4 separate regions of the Homo sapiens genome follow, and all the other regions are linked to region 3. Evidence: fine-mapped expression QTL. A gene starts in region 3. Each other region holds a variant in brackets. All regions are shown on one strand. Distances are between the middles of the regions. Region 1 overlaps EMID1 (EMI domain containing 1). Region 2 overlaps LOC101929638 (a long non-coding RNA gene). Region 3 holds the start of EMID1 (EMI domain containing 1). Region 4 overlaps EMID1 (EMI domain containing 1).

Region 1 (5,736 bases), 31 kb before region 3:
GGGAGACAGAGTGAGACTCTGTCTCAAAAAAAAAAAAAAGACTGAGATCTAATCATAGGACTCCAGAACACTTCCCTTCCCCAATACCTTCTCACTACATTACTAAAGGCCTATCTACTGCAGTTCTTTTGCACAGTACATTATGTCTACCTTCCAGTGAAAAATTACAAGGCATACTAAAAGGCAAAAACACAGTTTGAAGAGATTCAACAAACATCAGAACCTGCATCAGTTATGGCAGAAATGTTCAGATTATCAGGCCAGGAATTTTAAAAATCTACAATTAACATGCTAAGGGAATTAATGGAAAAAGTAGACAACATGCAAGAAGAGATGGATTATAAGCAGAGAGATGGAAATTCTAAGAAAGGCCTGGGCGTGGTGGCTCATGCCTGTAATCCCAACACTTTGGGAGGCTGAGGTGGGTAGACTGCTTAAACTCAGGAGTTTGAGACCAGCCTGGGTAACATGGTAAAACCCTGCCTCTACATTAAAAAAAAATTTTTTTTAAAAGAAAAAAAAGATATTCTAAGAAATAATTAAAAATAAGTGGTAGATATAAAAAGCACTGTAACAGAAATAAAGAATGCCATTGATGGGCTTATTCGTGGACTGGACATGGCTGAGGAAAGAATCTCTAAGCCTGATGATATGACAATGGAAACTTTCAAAACTGAAATGCAAAGAGAAAAAAGGCTGAAAGAATAGAACAGAATATCCAAGAATTGTGGGACAATTACAAAAGATGTAAATATGCATAATAGAATACCAGAAGGAAAAAAGAGAAAGAAACACAAGCAATATTTGAAGTAATAATGACAGAATTTTCCCCCCAAAAATGTCAGACACCAAACCACAGATCTAGGAAGATAAGGGAATACCATATAGGATAAATGCCAAGAAATGACAAGTAGGCATATCATATCCAAATTTCAGAAAATCAGGCTGGGTGCAGTGGCTCACACCTGTAATCCCAGCACTTTGGGAGGCCAAGGCAAGAGGATCACTAGAGGTCAGAAAGACCAGCCTGGGCAACATAGTGAGATCTTGCTTCTAAAATTAAAAAAAAAAAAAAAAAAAATGGCCGGGCACGGTGGCTCACGCCTGTAATCCCACCACTTTGGGAGGCCGAGGCGGGCGGATCACCTGAGGTCAGAAGTTTGAGACCAGCCTGGCCAACATGGTGAAACCCTGTCTCTACTAAAAATACAAAAAATTAGCCGGGCGTGATGGCAGGTGCCTGTAATCCCAGCTATTTGGGAGGCTGAGGCAGGAGAATCGCTTGAACCCAGGAAGCGGAGGTTGCAGTGAGCCAAGATCACACCATTGCACTCCAGCCTTGGGGACAAGAGTGAGATTTCATCTCAAAACAGAAAAAAAAATTAGCCAGGTGTGGCACATGACAGTAGTCCCAGCTACTCGAGAGGTGGAGGCGGGAGGATCCCTTGAGCCCAGAAGCCTCAAGGCTTCTGAGGTGACAGAGTATGACCTTATCTCTAATAATAATAATAATAATAATAATAATAATAATAATAATAATAATAATTTTTAGAAAAACTTCAGAGAATCAAAGATAAAAAAATACTGAAAAGAAAACAGAGGGAAAAAATATCTTTCCTGCAGAGGAGCAACAATAATAATTACAACCAACTCTGCAGAAACCATGCAAGCAAGAGAGTGGAGAGTAATATACCAAGTATTGAGAGGAAAAAAACACATCAACCTAGAATTCTTTACCCTGAAAAATTATCCTTCATGCATGAAAGGGAAATGAAGACTTTCAGACAAACAAACAGTGAGGGAATTTTTGTCAGTAGATCTGCCTTGTAGGAAACATTAAAAGAAGTTCTTCAGCGGAGCACTTATTTTATTTTATGGAATGAAGTGTTGCCCGATTCTAGAATCACAAATAAAGCCAACTGGGAAAAAATAAAGGTAGTTCTTCAGAGAGGACAAAAATTATGTGTCAGAAACTCAGATTTTTTTTGTTTGTTTTTTTTGAAACGGAGTCTCGCTCTGTTGCCCAGGCTGCAGTGCAGTGGCGCGATCTCCACTCACTGCAAGCTCCATCCCCCAGGTTCATGCCATTCTCCTGCCTCAGCCTCCCAAGTAGCTGGGACTACAGGCACCTGCCAGCACGCCCAGCTACATTTTTTTTGTATTTTTAGTAGAGACGGGGTTTCACCGTGTTCACCAGGATGGTCTCCATCTCCTGACCTCATGATCTGCCCACCTCGGCCTCCCAAAGTGCTGGGATTATAGGCGTGAGCCACCGTGCCTGGCCAGAAACTCAGATTTTACATAAAGAAAGGAGGAGCATGGCCGGGCATGGTGGCTCACACCTGTAACCCCAGCACTCTGGGAGGCTGAGGTGGGTGGATCACCTGAGGTCAGGAGTTTGAGACCAGTCTGGCCAACATGGTGAAACCCTGTCTCTACTAAAAATATAAAAATTAGCCAGGCAGGGTGGCAGGTGCCTGTAGTCCCAGCTATTCAGGAGGCTGAGGCAGAGAATTGCTTGAACCCAAGAGGCAGAGGTTGCAGTAGCAGAGATCACACCACTGCACTACAGCCTGGGTGACAGAGCAAGACTCTCTCTCAAAAGAAAATAAGTAAGTAAATAAATAAATAAAGCCAAAAAAAGGCAGAAAAAGTCTGGCAGACAAAAATAGGAACAAAGAACAAGGAAAACAAATAGAAAATAGTAGCTGGGCGAGGTGGCTCACACCCGTAATTCCAGCACTTTGGGAGGCCAAGGCCGGTAGATCACAAAGTTAGAAGTTCAAGACCAGTCTGGCCAAGATGGTGAAACCCCATCTCTACTAAAAATACAAAAATTAGCCAGGTATGGTGGTGGGCGCCTGTAGTCCCAGCTACTTGGGAGGCTGAGGCAGGAGAATTGCTTGATCCCGGGAGGCGGAGCTTGTAGTGAGCCGAGATCCAGCCACTAGACTCCAGCCTGGGCGACAGAGCAAGACTCTGCCTCAAAAAATAAAAAAAAAAAGAAAAAAAAGAAAGAAAATAGTAATATGGTAGCTGTTAACCCAACTATATAAATAACACTTCATTTATTTAGTTATTTTTTATTTTACTGATTGACTTATTTTTTTGAGATGGAGTCTCACTCTGTCGCCCAGGCTGGAGTGCAGTGGCACAATCTTGGCCCACTGCAACCTCCGCCTCCCAGGTTCAAGCAATTCTCCTGCCTCAGCCTCCTGAGTAGCTGGGATTACAGGAGTGCGCCACCATACCTGGCTAATTTTTGTGTTTTTAGTAGAGACGGGGTTTCACCATGTTGGCCAGGCTGGTCTCAAACTCCTGACCTCAGGTGATCCCCCTGCCTCCACCTCCCAAAGTGCCAGGATTACAGGTGTGAGCCACCGTGCACAGACTATTTAGTTATGTTTTAGAGGCAAGGTCTGGTTCTGTCACTCAGGCTGGAATGCAGTAAAGCAATTATAACTGTCACCTTAAACTCCTGGGCTCAAGCAATCCTCCCAGCTCAGCCTCTCAGGTAGCTGAATCTACAGG[T/G]GCACACTACCACGTCCAGCCAATTTTTAAATTTGTTTTATAGAAAAAGGGTCTCATTTTGTTGCCCACTCTAGTCTCAAACTCCTGATTTCAAGTGATCCTCCTGCCTTGGCCTCCTGAAGTGCTGGAATTACAGGTGTGGGCCACTATGCTGGGCCTCAATAATCACTTTAAATGTCAATGGCCTAAATGCAGCAAATAAAAGATGAGGATTGTTAGAATGGACCAAAAAATAAGACCTAACCGTAGGTTTTCTATAAGAAACTGACTTTAAATATAACCACAAAACAGATTAAATGTAAAGGAATAGAAGTTAACTGGGCATGGTGGTACATGCCTGTGGTCCCAGCTACTCAGGAGGCTGAGGTGTGAGGATTGCCTGAGCCAGGGAGGTTGGGGCTACAGTGAGCTATGATTGCACCACTGCACTCCAACCTGGGTGACAGAGAAAGACCCTGTATCAAAAAAAAAAAAAAAAAAAAAAAAAAAGCTTAAATTCTAGAAAGCTTTAATTCTAGAAAGAAAATTAATTTTAGAAAGAGAAGATTTTAAGTCAGGCACAATGGTGCACACCTGTAGTCCCAGATACTTGGGAGGCTGAGGCAAGAAGATCACTTAAGACACTTCATTCACTATGTGCCCAGGAGTTTGAGTTCAGCCTAGGCACATAGGGAAACCCTGTCTCTAAAAAAGAAAAAAGAAATCATAAAAAGTACTCAATCCAAAAGAAGACAAGAAAAGAAAAGGGAAAAAAGAAACACAAAACAGAAGGAATAAATAGAACATAAACAGCAAGATGGCTAAACAGAACCATATTAATCAATTATACATATCATTAAATATAAATTAACTAAACAGTCAAACTGTTTTTAAACAGCAAGACCCAAGTCATATGATGCACTTTTTTTTTTTTTTTTTTTTGAGATGAAGTCTCACTCTTATTGCCCAGGCTGGAGCACAATGGTGTGATCTCAGCTCACTGCAACCTCTGCCTCCTGGGTTCAAGCAATTCTTCTGCCTCAGCCTCCCGAGTAGCTGGGATTACAGGTGCCTACCACCATGCCTGGCTAATTTTTGTATATTTAGTAGAGACGGGGTTTCACCATGTTGACCAGGCTGGTCTTGAACTTCTGACCTCAGGTGATCCACCCGTCTCAGCCCCCCAAAGTGCTAGGATTACAGGCGTAAGCCACCGTGCCCGGTCCACACTTTCTTACATTTAATAAAATTTATATACATATTTTTATATAAAGACAGAGTTTTGTCATGTTGCCCAAGCTGGTCTTGAACTCCTGAGCTCAAACGATCCACCTTCCTCGGCCTCCCACAGTGCTGGGATTACAGGTGTGAGCCACCACACCCAGCCATGATGCACTTTAAATATAAAGTTACAGGTTGAAAAAAAAAAGGATAAAAAAAGATATAACATGCAAATAGCAAGCATAAGAAAGCTGGTGTGCTATTAAAAGCACACAAAGTCGATTCAAGGCAAGTATTATCAGAGATAAAGATATTAATTTCATAAAGATAAAATGACCAAGGAGACATTAAAATACTAAATGTGAATGCACCTAATAACAAAGACTCAAAATACGTAAAGCAAAATTCACCAAATTAAAGAGAGAAATGAACAGATCTACAATCAGAATTGGAGAGATAGAGTGTAAATGAAATACAGAGTCAAAGAGACAGACGTACAGAGGGAAAGAGAGAGATACAGAGAAACAGAGAGCCAGAGTGAGAGAGACAGAGGCAGCCTAATCCAAAGAGGACAATGAGTCTCAGAGACAGGGAGCATCTGAAAATAAATGACAAGACAGGGAGGGTTAGAAGCTCTGGTTGCAGGGGATGGAGTCACAGGAGGAATCTGGGACTAAGGGATCCTGCAGGGATGAATGCGGGACAGACAGCAACACTTACCCGCTGCCCAGCAGAGCCTTGGGGGCCAGGCTCCCCACGCAGTCCCTGTGTAAGAGGGAGGAGACGAATGGCGTCAGCTGTTGAGGACTCTGACCTGGGGCCCTCAGGACTCCCCAGAATTCCCCCACCTGGGGCCACCTGGGTACTCACTCTCTCGCCCTTCTCTCCTGGGTGGCCAGAGATTCCTTTGGGTCCAGTGGGGCCTGGGGGTCCCTGAGCAACAAGACAGGGCCTCAGCCTTGTGTTGGGGCAGGATGGAGTGGGCAGGGGCTTGGGAACAGAGGT
Region 2 (5,796 bases), 25 kb after region 3:
TGATCTCGGCTCACTGCAAGCTCCGCCTCCCAGGTTCATGCCATTCTCCTGCCTCAGCCTCCGGAGTAGCTGGGACTACAGGCGCCCGCCAACACGCCTGGCTAATTTTTTGTATTTTTAGTAGAGACGGGGTTTCACCGTGTTAGCCAGGATGGTCTCAATCTCTTGACCTCATGATTGGCCTGCCTTGGCCTCCCAAAGTGCTGGGATTACAGGTGTGAGCCACCGCGCCTGGCCTTTTTATTAGTATTATTATTTTGAGACAAGTTCTCACTCTGTTGTTCAGGCTGCAGTGCAGTGGCATGATCACAGCTCACTGCAGCTTGGAACTCCTGGGTTTAAGTGATCCCCCTGCCTCAGCCTCCTGTGTAACTGGGATTACAGGAGTGTACCACCATGCCCAGCTAATTTTTTTTTTTTTTAATAGGGACAAGAGCTTGCCGTGTTGCCCCAGGCTGGTCTCAAACTCCTAGCCTCAAGCAAACTTCCTGTCTCGGCCTTTCAAAACCCTGAGATTACAAGCATAAGAAAAGAAAATCTTGTAAGATGAAAGCTGAAGGATGAGAGCAATTAATTGATGAAGTATGATGATCCAGGTGTCCCTGGGTGAAGAAACAACCTCTACAAAGGCCCTGAGGTAGGAATATGCCATTATAGGACCTAGGAGCTGTTCTCAGGGAGCTGACGGTGATTGAGGCTCATGGAACAAGAAAAGAAAAATCATCATCACCATTGTCACTATCACTACCATAGTCAGATGAAGGTGAAGTCTTACAAATACTTCATATGGGGCCAGGTGTGGTGGTGTGTGCCTGTAATCCCAGCACTTTGGGAAACCAAGGTGGGAGGATTGCTTGAGACCAGGAGTTTGAGACTGGCCTGGGCAACATAGCGAGATTCTATCTCTGCAATTTTTTTTTTTAATTAGTGTGACGTGTTAGTATGCGCTTATAGTCACAACTACTCAGGAGGGTGAGGTGGGAGGATTGCCTAAGCCCAGGAGTTTGAGGCTGCAGTGAGCTATAATTGCACCACTGCACCCAGCCTGGGCAACAGAGTGAGACCCTGTCTCAAAAACAAAAGAAACAAAAAGCCTCATGTAGGATCATATACACCAGGCCCTGTACATATTCCCAGGAGAATCTGAGCACCATTTAGGGCCCCAAAGGGATCATCTTGGGTGCAGACTGGGAGGCAGGAGACAGCCAGGTAAGGACATAGGCTCTGGGTCAGATGACCTGGCTTTGCATCCTGACTCCCCTCTTAAGGCAGGAGAGAAGGCTCCCCTCCCCTCCCCGTCTCACTCTGCCACCCAGGCTGAAGTGCAATGGTGCAATCATGGCTCACTGCAGTCTCGACCTCCCAGGCTCAAGTGATCCTTTGGACCACAGGCATGTGTCACCGTGCCTGGCTAGTTTGTTGTTGTTGTTGTTGTTGTTTGTATTTTTAGTAGAGATGGGGTTTCCCCATGTTGCCCAGGCTGGTCTCGAACTCCTGGGCTCAGCAGTCCACCCACCCCTGCCTCCCAAAGTGCTGGGATTACAGGTGTGAGCCACCGTGCCTGGCCTGTAGTTACAATAAACTACAGAGTGTAAAATTTCACCAGTTTGACATGTCTTCACCTGGGAAATCATCTCCACAATCAAGACAGTGAATCTATCCACCACCCCCAAAAGTTTTCTCATTCCCCTTGGTCACCCACCTCTCTCCTGATTCCCAGGCAAACACTGATCTGCTTTCTGTCACTATAGATTATTTTGCATTTTCTAGGATTTTTCTTCTTTTTAAGAGACAGGGTCTCACTCTGTTACCCAGGCTGGAGTGTAGTGGCATGATCATAGCTCACTGCAGCCTTGAACTCTCAGGCTCAAGCGATCCTCCCACCCCAGCCTCCCAAAGTAGCTGGGAAGACAGATGCACACTGCCACACTTGGCTAATTTTTATTTTTTATTTTTTGTAGAGATGGGGTCTCCCTATGCTTCCCAGGCTGGTCTCGAACTCCTGGACTCAAGCAATCCTCCTGTCTTGACCTCCCAAAGTGCTGGGATTACAGGCGTGAGCCGCCTCACCTGGCCTATAGAATTTTATACAAATGAAATCATACTGTATGTACTCTTTTTTGGTCTGGCTTCTTTTATGCAACATAATAATTTAAGCTTCACCCATGTCATTGTGCATATTACTAGTTCATTTCTTTTTCCTGCTAGGTATGTTTCACAACTTGTTTGTCCACTCACCTGTTGATGGACATTAAGTTGGTTACCAGTTTGGGGCTATTATAAATAATGCTGCTATGAACATTTGCATACACATTTTTGTATTGCCATATGTGTTCATTTATCTTGGTTAGATACCTAGGAGTGGACCTGCTGGGTCTCAAGGTAATTGTATGTGAAGTATGAGAGAAACTGCCAAGCTGTTTTTCTTTTCCTTCTTTTTTTTTTGAGATGGAGTCTCGCCCTGTCGCCCAGGCTAAAGTGCAATGTTACAATCTCGGCTCACTGCAACCTCTGCCTCCTGGGTTCAAACAATTCTCCTGTCTCAGCCTCCTGAGTAACTGGAATTATAGGCATGCAACACCACACCTGGCTAATTTTTGTATTTTTAGTAGAGATGGGGTTTGGCCATGTTGGTCAGGCTGGTCTCGAACTCCTGACTTCGTGTGATCCACCTGCCTCAGCTTCCC[A/C]AAGTGCTGGGATTACAGGCATGCACCACTGCGCACAGCCCAAGCTGTTTTTCAAAGTGATTGTAAAACAGTACCTAAAAGCTCCAGTTGCTCCACAACGTCACCAACCCTTGGTATTGCCAGTTATTCAAATTTAAGCCATTCTAATAGATGCGTAGTAGTCTCGCTGTGATTTTAATTGGCATTTCCCTAATGATTGATGCTATGGAGCATCTTTTCACCTGCTTATTTGTCATCCGTACGTGTTTTTTTGATCAAGTGTCTGTTTCAATTATTTGTTCCCCATGGGCACTCTTAAAAATTCTTTGTTTTCGTATTATTGAGCGTTGAGAGTTCTTTATATATTCTGGATATGAGTCTTTTTTAAATCAGATATGTGATTTACGAATATCTTCTTTCAATCTGTGACTTGTCTTTTTATTCTCTTAACAGTGTCTTTCTTTTTCTTTTTGAGACAGGGTCTCGCTCATCACCAGGCTGGAGTACAGTGACATGATCATGGCTCACTGCAGCCTCAACCTCCCGGGTTCAGGCTATCCTCCCACCTCAGCCTCCCAGGACCACAGGCGTGTGCCACCATGCCCAGCTAATTTTTTGTAGAGATGGGGTTATGCCATGTTGCCCAGGCTGGTCTCGAGCTGCTGGGCACAAGCAATCTACCCATCTCAGTCTCCCAAAGTGCTGGCATTATAGTCGTGAGCCACTGTGCCCAGCCAACAGCGTCTTTCAAAGAGCAGAGAGAGGTTAATTTTGATGATGTCCAGTTTGCACCTTTGTTGAAAATTGACCATATATCTGTGAGTCTGTTTCTAGACTCTTTGTTCTGCTTTATTAAACTACTTGTCTATTTGTACACCAATGCCACACTGTCTTCATTGCTGTGCCTTTGTAATAAGTTTTAAAGTTAGGTCATTTAAGTCCTTTAATTTTGTTCCTCTTTTTCAAAGTTGTTTTGACTATTCTAAGCTTTTGCATTTCCAATACATTTTGTAATCAGCTTGTAAATTTCTACCAAAAAAGCCTGCTGAGACTTTGACTGAAATTATGTTGAGTTTGTAGATTAATTTGGGAAGAATTGACATATTGACAGTATCGAGTCTCTCAACCCATGAACATGGTATACCTCTCCATTTATTTAGACCTTTAGAGCTTTTTCTCAGAAACATTTTGTAGCTTTTTTTTTTTTTTTTTGAGACGGAGTCTTGCCCTGTCACCCAGGCTGGAGTGCAGTGGCACGATTTTGGCTCACTATAACCTCTGCCTCCCGGGTTCACGCGGTTCTCCTGCCTCAGCCTCCCAGGTTCACGCGGTTCTCCTGCCTCAGCCTCCTGAGTAGCTGGGATTACAGGCAGGCGCCACCATGCCCGGCTAATTTTTGTATTTTTAGTGGAGACGGGGTTTCACCATCTTGGCCAGGATGGTCTCGATCTCTTGACCTCGTGATCCGCCCGCCTCAGCCTCCCAAAGTGCTGGGATTACAGGCATGAGCCACCACGCCCAGCTTGTTTTGTAGCTTTAATTGTATAGGCCTAACATACTTTTTTGTTCTGTTTAGTCTATTTCATATTTTTATGCTACCGTAAATAGTATTTTTTAAAATTTCAATGTCCAGGTGTTTTTTGCTAGTAATATATTTTTTATGTTGATCTTGTATCTTTCAACCTTATTATACTCATTTATTAGTTCCAGCAGCTTTTTTGCAAATTCCATCAGATTTTTAACTTAGATGAACATTTTTTTTTTTGCAAATAAAGGCAACTTTTCTTCTTTATATCAAATCTGAATTTTTTTTATTTCCTTTTCTTGTCTGATTATATGGGCTAGAATCTCCAATACAATGTTGAATAGAAGTGGTGAGAGTAGACAGACCTGTCTTGTTCATGATCTTAGGGGAAAAACATTAATGAACCCTAATGTTCATTATAGGGTTTTGTTTGGTAGATGCCTTTTATTAGGTAAGAAGATTCCCTTCTATTCCTGGCTTGCTTAATTTTTTTTTTAACAATCAGGAACGAATCTTGGATTTTGCCAAATGTTTTTTCTGCCTTTAATGAAATGATCTGATCATTTTAATTGTTTAGTCTGTTAATACAGTGAATTACACTGATTGATTTTCCAGTGTTAAAGCCACTTTGCAGTCCTAGGAGAAATCCCACTGGTTGTGATGTACAGTTGTCTTCCCTTATCCATGGGGGATGTGTTCCAAGACCCCTAGTGAATGCCTGAAACCTCAGATAGTACCAAACCCTATATACACTATGTTTTTTCCTGTACAGACATACCTATGATAAAGCCTAATTTATAAATTAGGCACAGTAAGATATTAACAATAACTAATAATAAAATAGAACAATTATAACAATATACTGTAATAAAAGTTATATGAATGTGGTCTCTCTCTGTTTTCTTTTACTATACTATGGGTAGCCAAAACCGTAAGAAGTGAAACTCCAGATAAAGGGGGACTACTGTATTATTTATTAATAAATAGTCATGAGTCACTTAACGATGGGGATATGTTCTGAGAAATGTGATTTGATTTGATTTCATCATTGTGTGAACATGACAGAGTGCACTCACGCGAACCTAGCTGAGATAGCCTACTACACACCTAGGCTATGTGGTGTAGCCTATTTCCCCTAGGCTACAAATCTGTACAGCATGTGACTGTACTGAATACCATAGGTAACTGTATCACAGTGGTATTTGTGCATCAAAACGTAGAAAAGGTACAGTAAAAATACAGTATTATAATTTTTTTTTTTTTGAGACAGGATCTTACTCTGTTGCCCAGGCTGGAGTGCAGTGGCACGATCTCAGCTCACTGCAACCTCCGCCTCCTGGGCTCAAGCCATCCTCTCATCTCAGCCTCCCATGTAGCTGGGACCACAAGCACAAGCCACTATGCCTGGCTAATTTTAAAAAATTTTTTTGTAGAGATGGGGTTTTGCCATGTTGCCCAGGCTGGTCTTGAACTCCTGGGCTCAAGCTACCCACCTGCCCTGGCCTCCCAAAGTGCTGGGATTACAGGCATAAGCCACTGCACCTGCCCCAGAATTATAATCTTATGGGATCACTATTGTATATGTGGTCCATCATTGACGGAAAT
Region 3 (5,000 bases):
GGATGGGGCCACAAGTGGAGGTTCTGGTAGCCCACAGACTCCTCAAGCTCCAGGTCCCTACCCCCATGTGACATGATTGATAGCAGGAACCACTGCAGGTGAGGCCCGGTGCTGGTCCTTCCCACGAGGAAAGAAGGAAACTGAGAGCAAAACTGAGACCCATGGCCAGGAAGTGACCCACTTGAGGTCACACATCAAGCCTGTAAGAGCAAGGAATTCTGTCTCCATTCTGTCCAAGGCTGGAGCCCCTAACTCCTAATCATGACTGCAAACCTTTCCTGGTGCCCCCAAGCCGACAACCTCTTTCCCTCTTCCAGCAAGGCTGCTGGAGAGAAAAAGCCACTGGATTTGGAAATCGACTGGTCTGGACTGAGGTGCCACTTGTCCTCTGTAGGCCTCAGCCTCCGTATCTGTACAATGGGTGCAATAGTGTTGCCCACAGGGTTTTTGGGATGCTCAGGCTACTGTGATAGGCTTCTGTCAACACATGGAGTGACAGTCCCCAGTGACCACCAGATACCTGGTTATAGCCATCATCCTGTTCCCACCCAGGAGACCCTGGGAGGTGAGGAGCCCAGGCTGGGAAGCCCTGCCTTGAACTGGCTGCAGGGCGGTCTGGGCCTTAAGCTGTCGCCACCATCATCCTGAGCCTAACAGTGGGATTTCTGAGTTCATAGTCTCTGTCCTCTTAGCATCTGGGATCCTGGCGGCTCACTTCCATGCTCTGGGCAGGTCATGTTCCCTCTCTGAGCCTCATCTTCCTCCTCTATGAAACAGAATCATAAAGAGCATACCTCCAAGCAGCTGGGAGGATTCTGGAGCTGATGAATGCAGGTAACGGAGCCGACTCAGGCTAACTGTTGTCTGCACACAATAGGTGGTGGCTGTAACATCTGCCACACGTCCACCCCTGTCTCAGACAACTGCTCTTCTGGCCTCTGATGCTTCAACCACCTCCGTCCTCCAGCCCTGCCCATGTCAACTGCTCTTGCTAGCCCAGCAGGGGCATGCTGGCCCCTGACCACTGGGAAAGGAGAATTTCTGAAAAGAATTAAAGAATTGAGGCCGTAGGGGGTGGGGGCCGCGCAGGCCTTTGAATGGGATGAAAAGGCCTGGAGAGGCCTGGCTACTCCACATTGTCTGCCTTGGACAACGGCGGCTGGCCTTTAGGAGGGGACCCTCGCTGGGGCTGCAGCCAGGACAGAGGCCAGGACAGGTTCAAACACTGTCATCAAGGATAGAAGGGCAGATTTGCAACCTAGCTCTTCAGTGAATAGCCCATGAGGCTAAAAGATGATGCCAATTCCCTAGGGTCTCAGTTTGCTTAACCGTTGAATGGGGACAGTTTTCCCTACCTCATTCGGTCCTTCAAGGATTGATGAGGACACTATATATAATAATGGGCCCCACCATGTCAGGTTCTGGGAGCTCCTCCGTAAAGGCCAGCAGGGAGGAGGTTCCCCGCCGCTAGGAGAGCAGAAGGAAGACTGTGCTCCCTCTTTTCTCTGTCCAAAATGCCAGGTCCCTGGGGTATCTCCGACACTGACCCACTGGGCTGTGAGACTCCACCCCAGTCCCTCCTCCGAGGGAGATAAATAGCCTGGGTACAAAACAAACAAACAAAAAACAAAACAAAGCAAAAAAACAGGAACAGGGAAAAGGGGAGAGAGGGTCCGAGAAGAGTCGGCTAGGGGGTGTCATAGGCCTTTCCCAAGTGCAGGGGGAGGGGCCCTAGGGACAGGGGAACAGAAGGGCCAGGGCTTCGCCCTCGTTGCGCCCCTTCCCCCTCCTCTCGAGCTCCTGGGTTGAAAGGGAGGGAGTAGGGGAGGCAGCCAGCTCCGACACATGGAGTAGGGGACCCCGCACTCGCGGGAGCCTCAGCCGGACCGCGGGATGGCCGTGTCCCTGCCCTCACCCGGGCTGGGGACTGGATCGCCCTCCAATCCCAGCCCTTCCTGGAGGTGGGGGCGTGTGCGCGCCGGGACCCTCGGCCAGCGGGGTGCAAAGGCGCCGGGAGCTCTTACCTGCGTCCGGAGAACGGAGCTGCCCCGATGCTCCACGCAGCGCCGCCTCCCGGGAGCAGGAGCCCGAGGCAGAGCAGCGCCCAAGCCCGCGGGCCGCCCATGCTGCACCAGGCGCCCTCCGCGCGCGGCCCCTCGCGGTCGCCGCCCCCAGCCTGTCCTCCCCGCCTGCCTGCCCGCGCCGCCAGCCGCCCCGGACGCGCGGAGCCCGGTTTCCAGCTCCGCGGCCGGAGGGCGGGCAGGAGGCGGGCGGGCGGGGGCGGGGGCGCGCGCTCCCGGCCTCGCCCGGCCCCTCTGCGCTGCCCCCCGCCCCCTGCGCCGCCGCTGCCAACCCGGAAGGAGCCCGGAGGGGCCCGGGCGGCCAGGGCGCCCCCGCCAGGAGGCCCGCCAGGTGTCCACCTGAGCCCCACGCCCTGCGCCGCGGGGCCCTTTTGGGGGCGGGGTGCCAGCTCCGAGGTGTCCTCCCACGGGCTGTAGACTGGGAAACTGAGGCCCGGGCCACGGTCCCAGACGCAGCCGGGACCCGAACCCACCTCACCTGAGCGAATGATATCCGGGACTCATCCTTTTTCGACACCTTTGCGGGATCCAGCCCTCCAAGGAAAGCTTCCTGAGCAGTGCGCGCCACGTGTATTGGGCACCTCACCGCGGCCACTTCACATCCTATCTCAGGTGACTCTTCAAGCCACTCTGCTCGAACTGGGCACAATATCCCCATTTTACAGAAGAGAAAACTGAGGCCCAGGCACTCGCAGTCTCCCTAGGAGGAGATCTGGGCTGACCCCATAAGTGCAGAGTCTGTTCTTATTCTCATTTTACAGGTGGAGAAACTAAGCCACAGAAAGGAGCTGTCATTTACCTAAAGCACCGTGGCAGGGGTTTGGCAGAGCCAGGATTTGTACCCAGATCGCCTGACTTCGGAGAGTAACAGCTCTTAACCACAGCACTTCGGTCTATGCCTTGATTTCACCATATGTAACAAGGTAAGAATTGGTGTTGGGTGGTTTCATCTGGGGTACATGGATGGGCTTCTGGAGGAATGGCTCTACATCCCACAAAGGTATATGTAAGCGTAGTGTGTGTGTGCAGGGGTGCATGTGTGTGTCGTATGTGTGTATGATGGATGTGTGTGCATGCTTGATGTGGATTTATGTGCATGTGTGTTATGTGTGTGTCTGTGATAGGAGTGTGTGTTTATAGGGAGAGACCAGAGCTCTCATCAGAGGGGACCCAGACCCCCAATCTCCCAGGGCAGTCTCTAACCCCGCCTTCTGCCTGGATCGATGGGCAGTAGTTAGGCCTGGGCTGGGGAAGCCCTTGCCCAGCTTGGCTACTTCCTGTTATGGCTTGTCCAGACCCACGGTCCCTTCTAGAAACACTCCCCAGAAAGGATCTGCCAGTCACTGGATTGCCCCTCCTGGACTCACCAGGGGCAGGCAGCATAGGCCACCATAGGCAGGCAGGCAGGCAGGACGGGGGATCCATCACCAGTGTGTCCACATAGAGAAAGCTGTTGCCCTGTCCCAAGGGACAGGTAGTGAGAGCTGGGTTCAAACCCTGCCTCTGCTACTTCTGCTCCAGTTAGCTCAGGCAAGTCTTGCCCCTCTCGCAGCCTCAGTGTTTCTTTTGCAGGGAGGACAGTTGTACATTCGTTACAGGAGTGTGGGAAGGATTGAGATATCATGGTAATGGCCTGTCACCCACTCTCCCCTACTTCACATAGTCCCCCAAGGGCTCCCTCTCCCTCCAGCGACATCACCATGGTGCCAATGTTGCCCCCTTGGGGAGCTGTTGCCCTCCTTTTCACGTGAAATTTTGGCACATCTCCTGTGCCATCTCTCTGACCTCCAAGAAATGCAGCTTTGTACCTCTCTGGTTAGCCCTTGTTTTTGACACAGCTAGATCAGTGACTTAACACCCTGGATAATTCGTCACTCCTGAGGAGCCATGCCCCCAAGAGGATGCCAGGCCTGTCTGAAACCCCAATCAAGCGGCCCAGATAAAAACCCATCACCCCAGGGGTGCTTTGAGCTGTTTAGGAAGCTCAAACATGCAGCTGTTTAGGAAGGAGAAGCACTGGATAATGCCTTGGAGGGACTGAGAGGTGTCTAGGGTGTCAGATGGGTGCCACAGAATGAGGAGGCACTACTAGGTCTGTTTGCAACATGTCTGAGATGCTCCTGCGATTAATGGCATCCACATTTCTTAACCAATGCCATCAAACTTGTGGCAGACTCAGGCCGCTGCAGAATTTCCCCAGCAAGAGACTCTCCTGGTAAAAGCTGTTATCAACATTTTCACATCAGAGAGGGGCCTGTCCTTACTGAGGCTGGGATTCCCGGGTCCAGGGTATTTATTTATCACTGTAGACCCGGATAAATAAATATAGATTTATTTATCACTATTTATCACCTTGTGGCTGTGTGGCCTGATGGATACACCCCACAAGCCATGTGACCCATAGGCCAGGGTGTCAATTCCAGAGCAACCTCTGGGAGCTGTGTGACCCAAGACAAGTCACTTCCCCTCTCTGAGCTTCATTTCTTTGCCTGAAAAAACAAGCCATGGGATCTTCTTTTTTTTTTTTTTTTTTTTTTTTTGAGACAGGGTCTCACACTGTCACCCAGGCTGGAGTGCAGTGGTGCCATTTCCGCTCACTGCAGCCTCAACCTCCTGGGCTCAAGCGATTCTCCTGCCTCAGCCTCCTGATTAGCTAGGACTACAGGTGTATGACAGCACATCTGGCTCATTTTTAATATTTTTTGTAGACACAGGGTCTTGCTCTGTTGCTCAGGCTGGTCTCGAACTCCTGGCTTCAAGCAACCCTCCCACATAGGACTTTTAAGGTCCCTCTGGCTCAAGAGTCTGAGCTTCTGGGAAAGTGTGAAAACGTCAGGTCTCCCCTTCAGTGGCCCTGGGGCACAGCTGAAGCCCCCGTTTAAGGGCTCACTTTCCTGTTGGATGACAGCCGGCTTTCTG
Region 4 (5,000 bases), 40 kb before region 3:
ATTGTTATTTTAGAGTGTACTCCTTCTACTTATTTAAAAAACAGTTAAGCTGTAAAACAGCCTCAGGCAGGTTCTTCAGGAGGTATTCCAGAAGAAGGCATTGTTATCATAGGAGATGACAGCTCTATGCATGTTACTGCCCAGAACTTCCAGTGGGACAAGAGGTGGACATGGAGACAGTGATACTGATGATCCTGACCCTGTGTAGGCCTAGGCTAATGTATGTGTTTGTGTCTTAGTTTTTAGCAAAAACATTTAAAAAGTGAAAAAAAAAAAAAAAAAAAAAGGGCCAGGCACAGTGTCTCACACCTGGAATCCTAGCACTTTGGGAGACCGAAGCAGGCGGATCACTTGAAGTCAGGAGTTTGAGACCAGCCTGGCCAGCCAACATGGTGAAACCCCATCTCTACTAAAAATACAAAAAAATTAGCTGGGCATCGTGGCGTTCACCTGTAGTCCCAGCTACTTGGGAGGCTGAGGCAATGAGAATCGCTTGAACCCAGGAGGCGGAGGTTGCAGTGAGCCGAGATCAAGCCACTGTACTCCACTGTACTTTTCTTGAGACATAGCAAGACTCTGTCTCAAAAAAAAAAAAAAGTAAAAAAAAAATTAATTTCACCAGCGCGGTGGCTCACGCCTGTAATTCCAGCACTTTGGGAGGCTGAGGTGGGCGGATCACTTGAGGTCAGGAGTTTGAGACCAGCCTGGCCAACATGGTGAAACCCCGTCTCTACTAAAAATACAAAAAATTAGCTGGGCGTGGTGGCTCATGCTTGTAATCCCAGCTACCCAGGAGGCTGAGGCAAGAGAATCGCTTGAACCTGGAGATGGAGGTTGCAGTGAGCCGAAATCACACCACTGCACTCCACCCTGGGCGACAGAGCAAGATTTTGTCCTAAACAAACAAACAAAAAAGCTCCAAAAATCTTTTATGGTGTATTTTTGCTGTACCTTTTCTATGTTTAGATACACAAATACTTACGACTGTGTTGCAGTTGCCTGCAATATTTAGCGTAGTAACGTGCTGTTTAGGTTTGTAGCCTGGGAGCAATTGGCTACACCATACAGCTGAGGTGTGTTGTAGGCTATCCCATCTAGGTTTGTGTATGTACACTGTATGATGCTCATGCCACAACAAAATCACCTAATGGCATATTTTCCAGGACATATCCCCATCATTAAGTGACACATGGCTGTACCAATAATTGGTCCATCTACAGGAAGGGCAGAATGACATTCATTGTACCAACTTTTCTGTATATCAAAATGCAAAATAGCTGGGTGCAGTGGTTCACACCTGTAATCCTAGCACTTTGGGAGGCTGAGGCGGGTGGATCACGTGAGGCCTGGAGTTCAAGACCAGCCTGGCCAACATGGCGCAAACCCATCTCTACTAAAAATACAAAAATTAGCCAGGCATGGCTACAGAGTCCCAGCTACTTAGGTGGCTGAGGCACGAGAATTGCTTGAACCCAGGAGGCAGAGGTTGCAGTGAGCTGTGATTGAGCTGTTGCACTCCAGCCTGGGCGATAGAGACTCTGTCTCAATAAAAAAGGAAAAAAACAAAATAAAAATAAACAAAAATATTGGGGAGGCCAGGTGCAGTGGCTCACACTTGTAATCCCAACACCTTGGGAGGCTGAGGTAGGAGGATCACTTGAGGCCAGGAATTTGAGACCAGCCTGGGACACATTGTGAGTTCTTGTCTGTATTTTTTAAAACATAAAATTAAAAAGAAAAATATGGGGAAAAGTGTTTTTAAAATCCACTGTTTGGAACTCCCTCAGACCAGGTGGCCTGATGTTTGCACTGATGACAACCCAGTCTCCTTCAGCCTGGCCTGCCCTCTGCACTCCGGATCTAAGTGTCTGGGCCTGCTGGACAACCCTACTTGGCTGTAACACAGACTCCTCCCGTTGGTCCACAGACAAAACTCAGCCTGCTTGCTTCTCCTGGTTCTCTTTTGCTATTTTAAGTCTCCCTTGACTCCTCACTCCCTTTTGCAGCCAGACCAGCACACAAGTGTCTTTTTGCTCCATCGACGGCTGTCTGTCCTCACTGGCTCCCACCCACTGCCCGGCTCAGTCTCTCACCAGGATGACCACGACAGCCCCCGACCTACTGTCTTTCTGCTTCTCCCATCCATTCGCCATGGCAATCAGAGGGATTCTTTGCAAATAAAAAAAACCTGACCGCATCACTCTGCTGCTTCTAGAGCCTTCAATGCCTCCCCACTGCCCTAGAACAAAGTCCAAATTCCTGAACGTGGCCTCCTACACCCTGAAGGCCTCTTTGGCCTCTGTTCCACTCTCTACCTGTCACAGTGCCACTCCAAGTATTTGCAGCTCCTCAAATATCCGAGGCTCCCTCTTGCCACAGGGCCTTTGCACCTGTTGTACCCTCGCCTCTGCCTGGACACTCCGTGCCTGGTTAATGCACCTTTCAGGCTTCACCTGGCTCCTCCGGGAGGATGCTAAAGTGTAAAGTGTTTATAAAGTTGACAGTCCTGTAGCTGCTGATTATAGGTCTTTTTTCCCTCACCTCACTGTGACCACCCTGAGGGTGGGGACTGTGTCTGAATTGCATCTGTGTAAACAGTGCCCAGCTCCAGGTCTGGTGCCTATGGAGGAGATGCTTGGGGAATGGTAGCTGGTTCTCTGGCCCTAGGAACTTAAAAGTCAGGGCTCCAGTTCCCGCTCTGCCAAGGATTCTCTCTGCCGAGTCGGGCCTCAGTTTCCCTGTCTGAATAAGGGGTGAGAGCTTTGATCCAGGTGGGCAGGCCCAGCACAGTCACT[C/T]CAGTTCCTGCAGTGCACTATCATGACCACCAGGTGTCACTGCTGGGCCACAGCCAGAACGCATCTGCAAGCTGCACTAAGGGAGTTGGTTGGTGAAGTGTACATAGGAGCCCTCGGGGACCTTGCCAGCACTGAACCTCATTCCCACCTGTCCCCAACAGAGCTGTTCCCCCAGCCCCCAAAGCTTCATGCAGCCCCCAGCCCAGTGGGTCCCCTCCCAGGCAAGCAGCAAGCAGGGGCAGAAGTGCAGGTAGAAGAGGGGCAGGAAGGTGGGTGGGCAGGGGCCCTGCTACCTCTTGCGGGGAGCCCACAGGTGGTTCTGGGTTCAAGGACTGGTCTAGGGTGGCCAGGGCATCCTGCCGGGGATTCTCATGAAGGGACAGGACTGCCCAATCTCTCCCACCCCTCCTGGACTGGGTGGTAAATGTGTTCCCAGACCAAGGGCCTCTGGGAGAGGCCAGTAATTAGCCTAGGGGAGGCAGAGAGCCAGGCTTGCATGGGTCTATCTGATCCCAGCTCAGCTCATGTCCATACTGGCAGTATTAAGAGACTCTGGAGCTACGGAGGATGGGTATGGGGTAGGAGGAGATTCAGGACAGCAGGGGCCAGGAGAGGCTAACTGGAGAGGTAGCAGGGCACCAGAAGTCATGGGCAGACACAGGGGAAGACTCGTGCAGGGTAGGGGGCTCCCACGGCTGTATCCATCACTGACCCCACAATCAAGAACTAAGAGGGCAAGGCAGGCACTGGGTGCCACCCACATCCTCACTAACTTGTGACTGCCAGGAAGTAGGGTGTCCCAGCCAGACTGCATGTGGAGGGGGAGTCACAATCCCCCCCACCGCCAAAAAGAGCTTCCTAGTTGTCTCTCTCTCCTGAAGGAGTGTCTGCCTCCACTCTGTCCATTTTCCAGATGTCTCCCCTGTCAGTGATGGTTTCCAGATCCCTGTGTCGTGGGGCTTTTGGGTATGGTATGTTTTAGGGTCCTCGTCTTTCCCCCACGTCTCTTGGGTGAGTAGATTTCTAGGTCCTAACCCGAAAATCCCTCCCCTGCAATGATTTTCAATGATTGTGAAGGTTTCTATTTTCTTTTCTTTTCTTTTTTTTTTTTTGAGACAGAGTCTCGTTCCGTCGCCCAGGCTGGAGTGCAGTGGCGCGATCTCTGCTCACTGCAACCTCTGCCTCCTGGGTTCAAGCGATTCCCCTGCCTCAGCCTCCTGAATAGCTAGGACTACAGGTGCGTACCACCATGTCCAGCTAATTTTTGTATTTTTAGCCCAAACCTTTAAGGCTAATTTTGTATTTTTGTATTTTTTTGTATTTTAGAGATGGGGGTTTTGCCATGTTGGCCAGGCTGGTCTCAAACTCCTGACCTCAAGTTATCTACCCGCCTCGGCCTCCAAGAGTGCTGGGATTACAGGTAGGAGCCACGGCATCCCGGACGATTGTGAAGGTTTCTAGGACCCCACATTAATCATGAGATTTTGCGGTGTGTGGTTTCTAGTTCCCCCTTCTTGTCCCCTTCTCATTTACTCTGTCTCCTGTATATGTGAGAGTTTCTAGGCTTCCCTTCTCATCCATCATGGGTCTCCTATGTATGTGATGGTGTCTAGGACCTTGTGTAAACTATAGGTCCTTTAAGTATAGAGGAGTCTAGGTCACCTGGCCTCATTAACCACATCAAACGTGTACATAGCAGTTTCGAGGCGTCTCTTCACAGGCTTCATGAATTTCCGATGTGTATGGTGGTATCTAGTTCCCTGTCCTTTTTACCACGTGGCTCCTATGTACCTCATCATTTCTAGGCCCCTTTCCTAGGTCCTCTATCCCATTCTCCTGTGTAGATATTGTCTTCATTCTTCCCTTTGTTCTGCAGACAAGGGAGCAAGCTAAGCCTTGGCTGGGAGGGGGCTATGGAGGCAGGGGATGCAGTCTGGCCTGGGTCAGCCCAAACCACCCAGGAGGAAAAGGCAGAGCCACCCTGGCCTGGAAAGGCCACAGAGGGAAGGTGGAGACAGGGACAGAGACTGAGACAGAAGGCATGGGGTCTGCTGATAGGGCTGGCCCTGCCCGGTTGGGAGCAACAAGATGGGGGAAGGAGTTGGGGCTGATAATTGCCAAGGCTCCTGCCTGGGAGACCAGGCTGTAGTGGGGATGTGGATGGGATGCTCCCACTCCCAGGGCCTCCTGGGGAGGGAATACTCT

What was found. PIP is the estimated chance that this variant, and not a neighbour inherited with it, causes the effect.
Region 1: its variant is the best candidate, but not a certain one, in a credible set for the expression of EMID1 in spleen (GTEx, PIP 0.87).
Region 2: its variant is the best candidate, but not a certain one, in a credible set for the expression of EMID1 in whole blood (TOPMed, PIP 0.63).
Region 4: its variant is the best candidate, but not a certain one, in a credible set for the expression of EMID1 in stomach (GTEx, PIP 0.84).

The regions. Positions count from the first base shown.
Region 1 is chr22:29,234,065-29,239,800 of GRCh38, reverse strand. EMID1 (EMI domain containing 1) reads right to left here. Exons shown (of 15, transcript NM_133455.4): 11 at 5,602-5,664; 12 at 5,452-5,496. Among named protein-coding and RNA genes, the nearest start is that of EMID1, 31 kb to the right of the region's middle. RefSeq lists enhancers at 5,155-5,655, 5,656-5,736. The variant T/G (reference allele first, on the strand shown) is at 3,532.
Region 2 is chr22:29,178,013-29,183,808 of GRCh38, reverse strand. LOC101929638 (a long non-coding RNA gene) reads left to right here. Exons shown (of 5, transcript XR_938134.3): 4 at 428-637; 5 at 3,146-3,546. Among named protein-coding and RNA genes, the nearest start is that of EMID1, 25 kb to the left of the region's middle. The variant A/C (reference allele first, on the strand shown) is at 2,688.
Region 3 is chr22:29,203,164-29,208,163 of GRCh38, reverse strand. It overlaps EMID1 (EMI domain containing 1), which reads right to left and starts at 2,268. Exons shown (of 15, transcript NM_133455.4): 1 at 2,025-2,268. The coding sequence starts at 2,125. LOC101929638 (a long non-coding RNA gene) reads left to right here and starts at 2,332. Exons shown (of 5, transcript XR_938134.3): 1 at 2,332-2,693; 2 at 2,843-3,004. RefSeq lists silencers at 1,834-1,893, 1,914-2,073, 2,084-2,173.
Region 4 is chr22:29,243,546-29,248,545 of GRCh38, reverse strand. The region is part of intron 13 of EMID1 (EMI domain containing 1); the gene reads right to left. Among named protein-coding and RNA genes, the nearest start is that of RHBDD3, 22 kb to the left of the region's middle. The variant C/T (reference allele first, on the strand shown) is at 2,796.